Linked DNA regions of Homo sapiens: all the other regions are reported to be linked to region 1. Evidence: microRNA targets listed by miRTarBase, many of them from high-throughput screens and not tested one by one. Region 1 holds a microRNA gene; each other region holds the end of a gene's coding sequence.

The links. Region 1 holds the annotated microRNA hsa-miR-6512-3p (UUCCAGCCCUUCUAAUGGUAGG, at 1,345-1,366, shown strand). A microRNA usually pairs through its seed, bases 2 to 8, with sites in the 3' UTR of a target mRNA and lowers its output. Matches are read on the target gene's strand: a 7mer-m8 pairs with bases 2 to 8, a 7mer-A1 pairs with bases 2 to 7 and ends in A, and an 8mer does both.
Region 2: miRTarBase lists UTP6 as a target of hsa-miR-6512-3p. Seed matches in the 3' UTR shown: 7mer-m8 at 1,773-1,779 and 7mer-m8 at 2,834-2,840.
Region 3: the mRNA of SMARCA5 is a reported target of hsa-miR-6512-3p. Seed matches in the 3' UTR shown: 7mer-m8 at 2,944-2,950.

What each region holds. Positions count from the first base shown.
Region 1 is chr2:177,311,027-177,315,176 of GRCh38, reverse strand. MIR6512 (microRNA 6512) reads left to right here and starts at 1,295; the gene lies at 1,295-1,371. It overlaps LOC100130691 (Putative uncharacterized protein FLJ44553), which reads left to right. Exons shown (of 9, transcript NR_026966.1): 7 at 3,849-3,944; 8 at 4,142-4,150.
Region 2 is chr17:31,860,041-31,864,040 of GRCh38, reverse strand. It overlaps UTP6 (UTP6 small subunit processome component), which reads left to right. Exons shown (of 19, transcript NM_018428.3): 19 at 525-3,137. The coding sequence ends at 682. Among named protein-coding and RNA genes, the nearest start is that of COPRS, 2.8 kb to the right of the region's middle.
Region 3 is chr4:143,552,751-143,556,750 of GRCh38, forward strand. SMARCA5 (SNF2 related chromatin remodeling ATPase 5) reads left to right here. Exons shown (of 24, transcript NM_003601.4): 24 at 369-4,000. The coding sequence ends at 434. Among named protein-coding and RNA genes, the nearest start is that of SMARCA5-AS1, 40 kb to the left of the region's middle.

The DNA.
Region 1 (4,150 bases):
TTTTCTTTAACCCAGCTATTCAAATACTCTATTAGACCAGGACCTGTAATAATACAGGCCTTGTCCAGAAGGGATCAGGTTTCTATGTTATATAATTAGGCAAGACTTTAAATAGTAAGACATGCACCTGTGGTGCTTTTGTCTCTAACTCCACAAATTTCAACATGCATACAAATCAAGAAGGGGTGGGGGTGTTACATGCAAATTCTGCTTCAGTGGGTGTTGGAGCCTGAGATTCTGGCTTTCTAACAAGCTCCCAGGTAAGTGCTGATGCTGCTGCTTTGAGGGCCACACACCTTGAGGAGTAGGAAGAGTACTCATACTGGAAGAGTATTCAGCACGGACTGGAATCCTGCATACATATCTGAGCTCTGTGTTCTGGTATGTATATAGACTTTTTAAAAAAATTAGTAGAGATGGGGTCTCACCATTTTGGCCAGGCTGGTCTCAAACTCCAGGGCTCAAGAGATCCTCCTGCCTTGGCCTCCCAAAGTGCTGAGATTACAGGCATGAGCCACTATACCTGGCTTATATAGACTGCTTCTAAGGTCCATTCTAACTGTACAATTCCATGATTCAGTCACTGTTTGGCTATTAACTAATTTTTTTAGGCTTCTGATTCTCATTGTTTATAAGCTGCTATATTAGAGAATGTTCTGTACTGGAAGGCCAGATAAAAAGTCTTACTTATGGCCAGTAAGTTTTATTTTTCAATCTTCTACAAGTCTGCCTCAACCCATGGGAAATCTTGGCTAATAGTAACATGATACTGGGCTTGGACCATAAACTAAACTTGAGTCAGCAATGTAGGGCTTTGGTTAGATAAGCAAGAATGAACTTGGGAATATAACCAAAAGAAAGGGACAGCTAATCCTACCAGAACAGGCAGTATTTATATGAATACTTTTTTCAAATATCCACAACTGGGAAAAGCTGCTGAACACATAAAGAAAAGTTAAAAGCACGGCATTATTTAGCTAGTGAAAAGAGAACAAAGAATGCCTTAAGAATAATTTTTGAATGGCAGCAGAAACCAGCATATCCTGTGAAGTAAATGCATTTTCAGGACCTCAAAATAGATTTAGGTTGCCTCTAAAGCAGAACTTTCCCATGATAATGATGATCCTAGGTGGTAGGATTGCCAATGGTAATTTTCTTTCCCAAAGATTCTTACAACCAACCATAAACCTACTAGATAACCTATCAGTTGTGTTATTAACTGATATATCAGTTGGGGTTCAGTGCAGACACTTCTCTAGGTACTGAATGCTAAGAATTATATGCTTAAAAATTATATGCTCTTACCATTAGAAGAGCTGGAAGAAGGCTGAGGGAGATGCCTTCTTCCAGCCCTTCTAATGGTAGGAGCATTAAGAGGGATGCTGTTGGGCTCGCAGTTCAGTCCACACAGCTACAATCTAGAGGTCAGGAAGCTATAAAGTCCACTGCTGGCATCACAGTCATTTCTCACAGATGAAGTTAGTGGCAATGCAGAGGCACAGAAAGTCTGGTCATTAAAAACCACATTTAATGTTGCACGTACATCAACAACTACCAGTGAAAACTAATAGGCAGCCAGGCATGTTGGTGCATGCCTGAAGTCCCAAACATTTGGGACACTGAGGTGGGAGGATCCTTGAGCCCAGGAGGTCTAGGCTGCAGTGAGTTGTGATTGTGCCACTGTACTCCAGCCTGGACAGAACAAGAATCTTTCTCAAAAAATAAATAAATAGAGAGAGAGAAGGAGGGAGGGAAGGAGGAAGGTAAAAAGAGAGAGAGAGAAAGGAAGGAAGGGAAAGAAGAGGAAGGAAGGAAGGAAGGAGAAGAGAAAGAAAAGGAAGGAAGGAAGGAAGGAGAAAGAGAAAGAAGGAAGGAGAAAGAAGAGAAAGAAAAGGGAGGAAGGAAGGAAGGAAGGAAAACTAATAGGCAGGGGAAATAGCCTCTCTCTTCCTTTTACCTTTCTAATTTCGCATCATTATATCTGACTGGCACAGTTTAAATTGTTTAACAAATCCTATTAGCAGCTCAGCCTAGAATTATAGTTATTGAGCTTTGTTCCTAACTCAGTATAAATCTATCTTTATTGAAGTATAGCATACAGACAGAAAAATGCACAAATTATAATCAGAGAGCTTGATGAATTTTCATAAAGTAAACACACCTACATATTGCTAGCACCCAGATTGGGAGGCAGAAACTACTACCATACCAGAAGCTCCCTTCATTATCTTTTCTAGGCATTATCCTCCCTCAAATTGACTGTAATCTTGGCTTCTAATACCCTAGACCAATTTGGCCTATTTTTAAACATTAGACAAAATGGAATGATACAGTGTGTATTATTTTATTACTGGCTTTTCCTACTCAACTATTTGTGAGATTCATTCATGTTGAGAGTAATAATAGTATCTTCATTTTCATTGCTGTGTAGTATTCCATTGTATGAATATAACACAATTTATACGTTCTACCAAAGATGGACATTTGGGTTGTTTCCAATTTGAGATTACTGCAACTAGTGCCACTGTGAACATTGGTGAACACACACACACACACATATTTCAGTTGGATATATAAAAGTGTAATTTCTCTGATGCATGGGGTTCAGCTTGAGTAGTACTGCCCAACAGTTTTTCACATCTTCATCAAAACTTGATCTTTTCCATCTTTTAAATTTTAGCCATTCTCTTCAAAGACTAATGCAGTGTATTGAATCTCATTGTTGTTTTCATTTTTCTGATATCAAATAAACACCTTTTTAATTGTTTATTGGCCATTTGGGTACCCTCTTCTGTGAAATGCCTATTCATGTGTTTTGTGTGATTTTCTATGGGCTTGTCTGCCTTTTCTTGTTTTTATAGTCCTTTATTCTGGATATGAGTCCTTTGTCGGGTATATGTATTGATAATATCTTTTGCCACTATGTGGCTTTTTGTTTTTTGTTTTTTTTTTTTGAGATGGAGTCTTGCTCTGTCACCCAGGCTGGAGTGCAGTGGCGTGATCTCGGCTCACTGCAAGCTCCTCCTCCCGGGTTCACGCCATTCTCCTGCCTCAGCCTCCCAAGTAGCTGGGACTACAGGTGCCCGCCACCATGCCCAGCTAATTTTTTGTATTTTTAGTAGAGACGGGGTTTCACCATGTGAGCCAGGATGGTCTCAATCTCCTGACCTTGTGATCTGCCTGCTTCGGCCTCCCAAAGTGCTGGGATTACAGGCGTGAGCCACTGTGCCCAGCCCACTCTGTGGCTTATTTTATTCACTCTTTTAATAGTGTATTTTGAAGAAGACATTCATAATTTTGAATTAGTTTAGTTTATCAGATGTTTTCCTTTATGGCTTATTTATTTTGTGTGTCTCCAGTTTAAGAAATCTTTGTGGATTCCAAAATCGTGAGTATTCTTCTGTTTTCTTGTGAAACTGTTATTGTCCCACTTAGATTTACAATTGTGACTTTTATGGATGGTGAAAAGTGGGAAATATAGTTTTGAGCCTTCCAGTTTCTATAATTCTGTAGAGTAAAAATGGAGTATATAGAGAAGGTAGTGAAAATGTATGCAAGAAACCATATCTAACACAGTTAACTTAGGTGACTGTTTACGCTGTAAAACAGTGATATGTTTAGGCTTTGTGTCCCCACTCAAATTTCATCTTGAATTGTTTTTGTTTTTGTTTTTTGAGATGGAGTCTCGCTCTGTCGCCATGCTGGAGTGCAGTGGCACGATCTCAGCTCACTGCAACCTCTGCTTCCAGGGTTCAAGCACTTCTCCTGCCTCAGCCTCCTGAGTACCTGGGACTACAGGCACACGCTGCCACGCCCGCTAATTTTTGTTGTTGTTGTTTGTATTTTAGTAGAGATGGGGTTTCACCATGTTGCCCAGGCTGGTCTCAAACTCCTGAGCTCAGGCCATCTGCCCGCCTCGGCCTCCCAAAGTGCTAGGATTACAGGTGAGTGCCCGGCCTCTTATCTTGAATTGTAATTCCCGGGTGTTGAGGGAGAGACCTGGTGGGAGGTGATTGGATCATGGGGGAGGTTCCCCCATGCTGTTCTTATGACAATGAGTGAGTTCTCATAGATCTGATGGTTTTATAAGGAGCTCTTCCCACTTTGCTTCTCTCTCCCTCCCTCCTGCTGCCTTGTGAAGAAGGTGCCT
Region 2 (4,000 bases), not on the chromosome of region 1:
TTCTACTGGGAAAAAAAACAAAAAACAAAAAAACAAAACTGATGAGGCACAGTGGCTCACGCCTGTAATCCCAGCACTTTGGAAGGCCAAGGTAGAAGGATTGCTTGAGCCCAGGAGTTCAAGACTAGCCTGGGCAATATAGTGAAACCCTGTTTCTACAAAAAATAAAAAAATTAGCCTAATATGGTGGTGTGCCTGTGTTCCCAGCTGCCCTGGAGGCTGAGGCAGGAGGGTCACTTGAACTCAGGAGGTTGAGACTGTAGTAAGCCATGTTCCCGCTACTACACTCTAGCCGGGGCAACACAGTGAGACCCTGTCTCAAAAAAGAAAAAAACACACAAAAACAAACCAAAACCTGCCACTATACTTTAAAGAAGCTAAGAGAGGTATTGTTAAACAAAGCGTCCTAGGGAAGTAACAATGAGAAGTTAAGTTTCTTAGAAATCTTGAGTTGAATTGATATTTAATAAGGTTACCTAATAACACTCTGTCAGTTATCTAATTGTATGTTTTTTTTTTAAAAGATCTTTGGATGGATTATATGAAAGAAGAATTGAACCACCCCCTTGGTAGACCTGAGAACTGTGGACAGATCTACTGGCGAGCGATGAAAATGTTGCAGGGAGAGTCAGCAGAGGCATTTGTAGCTAAACATGCTATGCATCAGACTGGCCATTTATGAAGATGAAGAATACAGTCAGCTTTGTGAAATAGTATTGCAAGCAAGCCCCGTGGGCAAATTTGTATTGAGTCCATCTGTAATTTGCTCAGTGATGGCAGACAAGATGGCTGTCTGGTTTTGAGACACACTTTAATTTTATGTTAACTTGTTAAATCTTTTTAAAAATTAAAAAATTTTTATGATTGAGACTGGGTCTTGCTCTGTTGCCCTGGCTGGTCTTGAACTCCTGGACTCAAGTGACCTTCTCACCTCAGACTCCTGAGTAGCTGGGATTATAGGTGCATGACACTGCTCAGTTTGATGTGCTAATCTGATTCCAGTAAAGAGAATTGCTGATTTAATGTTGAGGCCCGATCTTCCACAGGTCCTAAATGTTTCCCAAAATACATGGATAGCATACGACTGGGTTTTTTTAAAATTATCCCAGGTCAAGCATGAGTATCTCTAATCTCGACCTAAGAGCCAGTTAAAATGAAGGAGAAAGTGGCCAGGCATGGTGACTCAACGCCTGTAATCCCAGCACTTTGGGAAGGCTGAGGCAGGCGGATCACCTGAGGTCAGGAGTTTGAGACTAGCCTGGCCAACATGGTGAAACCCCGTCTCTACTAAAAATACAAAAATTAGCCAGGTGTGGTGGTGGGTGCCTGTAATCCCAGCTGCTTGGGAGGCTGAGGCAGGAGAATTGCTTGAACCTGGGAGACGGAGGTTGCAGTGAGCCGAGATCATGCCATTGCTACTCCATCCTGGGTAAGAAGAGCGAAACTCCTTCTCAAGGAAAAAAAAAAAGGAGAAAGTACAGTTTTGTTGGTTTATTCTCATTATAAAAGATACGTGGTATGCATTTGTTCTGGAAAATATGGAGGAAATAGAATAGTGTGGTAAAAAAAAGCATCCTGTCACTGGGAGAAGCTTTCAGTGTAGCTTATTGTTACGTTTCACTTAGTATTGTTTTTCTGTGTCATTAAATAGCCTTAAAAACATTTAATGAATTCGTAACATTACATTGTAAAAATGAGCCATAATATATTTTACTAATCCTCTGGTTAGACTGTCTTTTTTTTTTTGAGATGGAGCCTTGCTCTGTCATCCAGGCTGGAGTGCAGTGGCTCCATCTCGGCTCACTGCAACCTCCACCTCCCGGGTTCAAGTGGTTCTGGCTCAGCCTCCCGAGCAGCTGGGTGGGATTACAGGCACCCGCCACCGCGCCCAGCCAATTTTTGTATTTTTAGTAGTGCGGGGGTTTCATCATATTGGCCAGGCTGGTTGCGAACTCCTGACCTCATGATCCACCCGCCTTGGCCTCCCAAAGTGTTGGGATTACAGGCGTGAACCACTAAGCCTGGCCTGGACTGTCATTTCTAATTTTTTTAAAAATTAGATAAATGCTGTTGATGAAGATTCTTGTCAATCTTTGTTCACATCCCTGGCCATTTCCTTAGGAGATTGACATCCGACAGTGGAATTACTGGATCAAAGGATACTGCTTTTAGAGAATACTGATATGTATTGCTGGTTTGCTCCTTCTTTCAAGCAATACATGAAAGTGTCAGTACCCTTACCTGTACTGGTGTAATTATATCTTTTATTTTTACCATTTTATAGGTGAAATGTGATATGTCATTGTTTTACCATACTTTGATATTAGTGAAGTTAGTGTATTTTATGTTTCTCATCTTTTTACATCCTTAGACTATTTAAAAATTTTTTTTCTTACTAATTTATGAGTTAATTTTTTTTTTTAAATTGGACAAGTTCTTGCTTTGTCACCTAGGCTAGAGTGCAGTGGTGTGATCATGGCTCACTACAGCCTTAACTTCTGGGCTCAAGAGATCCTCCCACCTCAGCCTCTTGAGTAGCTGGGACTGCAGGTGCACACCACCATGCCTGGTTAATTTAAATTTTTTTTTGTAGAGACTGGTCTTGCTATGTTGCCAGGGCTGGTCTCTTAAACAGTTGGGCTCAAACAATCCTCCTACCTCAACCTCCCAAAGTGCTGGTATTATAGGCATGAGCCATTGTGCCTGGCCAGAGTTTTTAAAAACATATTCAGAATATTAATATCTTGTTTCTCATTTGTTGCAAATAATTTTACCCCCAGCCTTGTTTGTGGTGATTTTTTTTTTTTGAGACAGAGTCTTGCTCTGTGGTCCAGGCTGGAGTGCAGTGGTGTGGTCTTACTGCAACCTCTGCCTCCTAGGTTCAAACAGTTCTCCCTGCCAAAGCCTCCCAAGTAGCTGGGATTATAGGCACCTTTTGTGGCGATTTTTGATGCCCAGAGGTATTTTGTGTGTGTATGTGTGATGTCTGTTTTTAAAATGCTTTGGAAGCTCTTCCTGGTGCTGAGAACAACTCTTTTTCCCCAAGCAGTTAATTTTGCCAACACTATTTGGGCAGTTATGTTTCTCTCTGCTGATTTGTGATGTTACCTTTATTATATATTAAATTTCTATGAGTATTAGAGTCTACTTTAGAACATTTTTATTTTAAGCTTTTGTACTGTTTTCTTTTTCTTTCTGGTTTTTTTTTTTTTTAGACCAAGTCTCACTCTGTCGCCCAGGCTGGAGTGCTGTGGGGCAATCTCTGCTCACTGCACCCTCCACCTCCCGGGCTCAAGTGATTCTCCTGCCTCAGCCTCCCGAGTAGCTGGGATTATGGGTGTGTGCCACCACGCCTGGCTAATTTTTGTATTTTTAGTAGAGATGGGGTTTCACCATGTTGGCCAGGATAGCCTTGAACTGACCTCAAGTGATCTGCCTGCCTCGGCCTCCCAAAGTGCTGGAATTACAGGAGTGAGCCACCGCGGCCAGCCCCTGTTTTCTTGTCATTTGTTTTAAAATAAGAAAAAAATTCCTCTTTTTCCTGTCCCTTAAGTCCTGGGATGTTTAACATTCTTAATCTTATTTGGCACTTTAATTTTACGAAAGAGATATGTAGATTAGGGAGCAAAGAGGATAGTGGTAGTCTCCTTAACACAAGGCTATAAGGGTGGTCACCTGGGGTCATCACATCCCTGTATCTGATTCTCAATATTGCAGGTTATGAAAACACATCTAGCTAGTACACCTAGAGTTGCACTGTTAGAAACAGTAGCTCCAAGGCACATGTAGCAATTTAAATTTATTAGAATTATTCAATTTATTCACATTGGCCACATTTCAAGTGCTCAGTAGGTATATGGTTACTATATTGGACAGTACAGATAGTAGAACTTTCATTTCCACTTCCACCATTAAAGAACGTTCTATTGGACATTGCTGACCTAGAGGCAGTTAGCCTTGGGGATACTGACTCCTGTGTAGGAACATCTACATATAGAAC
Region 3 (4,000 bases), not on the chromosome of region 1:
AGTCATGAATAAATGAGTATCTCTGGATAATATTTGGTACTTATGTAACTGCCTTTTAAAAACTCAAGTGTTTCTTACTATTTTGGGAAGCTTGCATTTATTTGATATTGATCTACTACTGTTAATTGTGCATTAGTTTTATAACGTCATTATTAACATTAACATTTTTTATTCTGTAAGTAAAATAAGTAGGTAAGATTATTTGGAGGCTTTATAGTTTGCTTTGAAAGATTTATATAGCCTGGGGGAAAAGTCTCATACCTATTACTTTGTAGTAGTTGTTATTACTAAAGTGTTATAATGTGTCTGCAACTATATTTCATGTTTATATTAGTCTTGTGAAAAGTAATCCTTCTGTCTGTTTGTAGACACAGAAACGTAAAATGGATGGCGCACCTGATGGTCGAGGAAGAAAAAAGAAGCTGAAACTATGAATATGTTTTTGTTTCATAATCACTAACTTTAAACCAGTAGTTCTTTAATTTACGGGTCTTCATAAGATGTACTGTACAATGCTCAATTGTTATGTCATTTAAAGACATCAGGTTCATCTGTTTACTGAGCTAGAAACATAGTATGTAGTTTCACTTTTTTAAATGCAACAGCTGTGCTGAAATTTTTTTATCATTAACACTTGAAGTAATAAAATAGGCTTCATTTATTACTAAGTGTTTCATTTGATTTATTTTTCTATTGTAGTTCCATTTGTGAAGATTGTGACTTTTTGTTTATTAGCTATAATTTCTACACTTGTAAGGCTTAAAAACAAGTTAAAAAGAAAATTGCAAATAACATTTGTCCCTTTCAGTCTTCACCTAGTTGTGTAATTATTTTAATTCACTTTGCCTTTGCAGAAATTTGGGTATTTTCTTTGTAGTGCTATTGAGTCTCATCTGGAAAGATTATATAAATTGCATTCTCCTTGCTTATGTGGGTAGAATGGGAAAAGAAGGCAAGACAAAGTATACTTAAATTCTATGCATATTTCTGTTATGCTTTCTGTTTTTTTTAGTTGATTCTGAAATGAATATGCCCTATTCTTTTGAAAGAATGGCCTTTTAGTTGTATAGCCAAAGACATTTAGTATTTTCCGGTTCCTTAAGGTATTACTGTACCATTTTGTAAAAGGAATATTATTATTATTATTTTTAATTATTTGGTAAATATTTTGTCATATGACCTTCTGAAGCAGCCACAACTTAGATAATGTCAGAACTAAGGTGATTTTTTTTTTTTAATTTTGAAAGCCCAGCCAAAATGAGGTGTGAATTTGTCATACTGTTACATTGAAATTGGTAACAAAATATATCCCCTCCCATTTGGACTTTTAGGGTAAATGAAAATTTTATTGTATTTTAAAGTAGTTTCTAAGTGTTAGCAAGACTGACTATAATTCCAGTTTCTGTTTTCTATGGACAGACCTGATAAACTGGAGACCCTAAAGCAGGAATACCCAAATTATAGTGTCAGGATTTTAGCTGTACCAGAGGCCTTTATGTGCTACACATAATTTGTATAAAATTTTATATGTGCAGATTGGGTACATAAACAGTTCTCCATTTTTCTAAGGGAATGCAATAAATGTAGCATCGTGAATAAATATAACTTTTATAATCCGTAAAGTGGTCTTTTCTTTCCATTTCTTTAATTGTTTTCTCAATTTTTATTCACTTTTTCCTTTAGGACACATTTCCCTTAATTGGATATCTTTCCCTTAAATTTCTATTAGTAGTTGTTTTCATCTGCCCACATGTAATTGAAGATTTAAAAAAAAAATTTTGATACCTGCAGTATTACTAATACTGCTTAATTTCTTGAAATGTGGAATTGCTGCTGTTAATGTCAAGCAAAACGCAGTATTTATGGCAAATTGTAAAGTAATTTGAATTTAGTGCTACCTCAAAATTAACTTTTTAAATACTATGTTAGATTCTTAACAGTTAAAGGTCTAATACATGCATGAGGAATGGTTACTTATGAAAGGAAAAAGAATTTGTAAGAGTTATCACCTCAGTTTGGAAGAAATTGAAAAAATGTAAGGCTGAAGAAAACTTACGGAGGTCACAAAAGTGATGTTTTCAAGAGGAGGAGAAACTGGGAGGGAGATACACAGTGGAAATGCAAAATGAATCAAGTATAGTGGTAGCCCTGAGAGCTTAGGGACTCAAATGGAAACTGTGTGAAGGGAAACTCACTTGAAAAAAAAGCATGAACCAGCTAGGCCCTGCCACCACTGTGTTTGGCCAAGTTCACAAATCTGTTTTAACCTGTCACTTCCCTGTCACTTCTCTGGCTTTCCTCTCCCGCTAAGCTTTTGTTTCCTGGCAGTAATTAAAATCTTCTGTCAGTGCCACAGCTACTACTGCTACTGGAACTGCCTTAACCACTACTGCTACTGGAACTGCCTTAGCCACCTTGGTATCGTGGTTTGGCAAAGTATTGGCCTCTACCACCATAGGGCCCAGAGCTTCTGCCTCCAAAGTTTCCTCCCTTCATGGGTCCAAAATTTGAAGACTGATTGTTGTCATTGCCAAAATCATTGTAGCTTTTACCACCTCCAAAATTGCTTCAATCATTACCAAATCTATTATAGCAATCCCCACTGCCACCATATCCATCACCACCACCATGGCTGCCACCAAAGCCACCACGATCACAGAACTTGATGACTGTATTTGTGACTAATTGTATAATAGTTTCTGTTCTGTGGAAAGTAAAGCATTCCAACACAGGGTTTCAGTGTAGATTGTTTTGTTTTGTACCCATGCTGTTGATTGCTAAATGTTTTAATAATCTGATCATGATACTGAATAAATGTCTTTTTTTTTTTTTAACAACAAAGCATGAAAGATTGCTTAATTGTACATCTGACAAAGTGCTGGAGGCTATTATAAAGTGTAATTATTACTACTTTTAAGAGACAGGGTCTTGCTCTGTCACCCAGGCTGGAGTGCAGTGGTGCAATCACAGCTCACTGCAACCTCAAACTTCAGGGCTCAAGTGATCCTCCCACCTCAGCTTCCCAAGTAGCTAGGACTACAGATACCACGCCCAGCTAAGTTTTTTTAGTTTTTGTAGAGATAGGGCCTTGCTATGTTGCCCAGTCCGGTCTCAAACGCCGACTTCAGGCAATCCTCTTGCGTCAACCTCTCAAAGTGCTGGGATTACATGTGTAAGCCTACATTCCAAAGTGCTGGGATCATAGTTGTGAGCCTACACCACACCTGGCCTACATTTTGTTTTTCATAAAGTTGAGAGAAGCAAATCCTAAGCATAGAGTACAAGTTGAGCATCCCTAATCAAAAAATCTAAAATCAGAAATGCTCCATAATTTGAATGCTCATTAGGGCATTTCTGATTTTTGGATTAGGGATGCTGAACTGATAAGTATAATGCAAGTATTCTAAAGTCTGGAAAATGCTAAAAACACTTCTGGTTCCAGGCATTTCAGATAAGGATTGCTCCATCTGCCCTTTGAGTATTTAATATATGCCGATTGTTTGAACTAATCTGGATTTAATTATATAAATGATTATATAAATGATCTTTGGCTTAGTACCTTTCTTAATCTCGATCTTAAAAAGCATTGTAAAACACCCCTGTGGTTTTTCAGAAAAATTCTGAGTAAAAAATAAATTTCATCTTGTTCTATCCCTTTGAATCTAAAAAACAAATCTTTTTGAAAGGATGTGCTACTATATTTCAAACCAGTAGTTTTGGAGTAGAACATTGCTAAAAAAATGGGTACTAAGGAGGGTAATTTAAACAAAGTAGATTAATGACACAAGGTGGATTGATGAACTCATAAATCCAAATGAATGGAATGCTAGAAGACATGTATTAACGGAGTAGCTGTTACCAAAATATATACATATTTTGTATATGTACATAGCTGTTACCAAAATGTATCTTTGCCTGTTGGAATCTGATGTCAAGATCAAAGGTGAGGGCATCCCTCAGATGACAGATAATGGGCAAAATACATTCTTGGTGTGGAGCA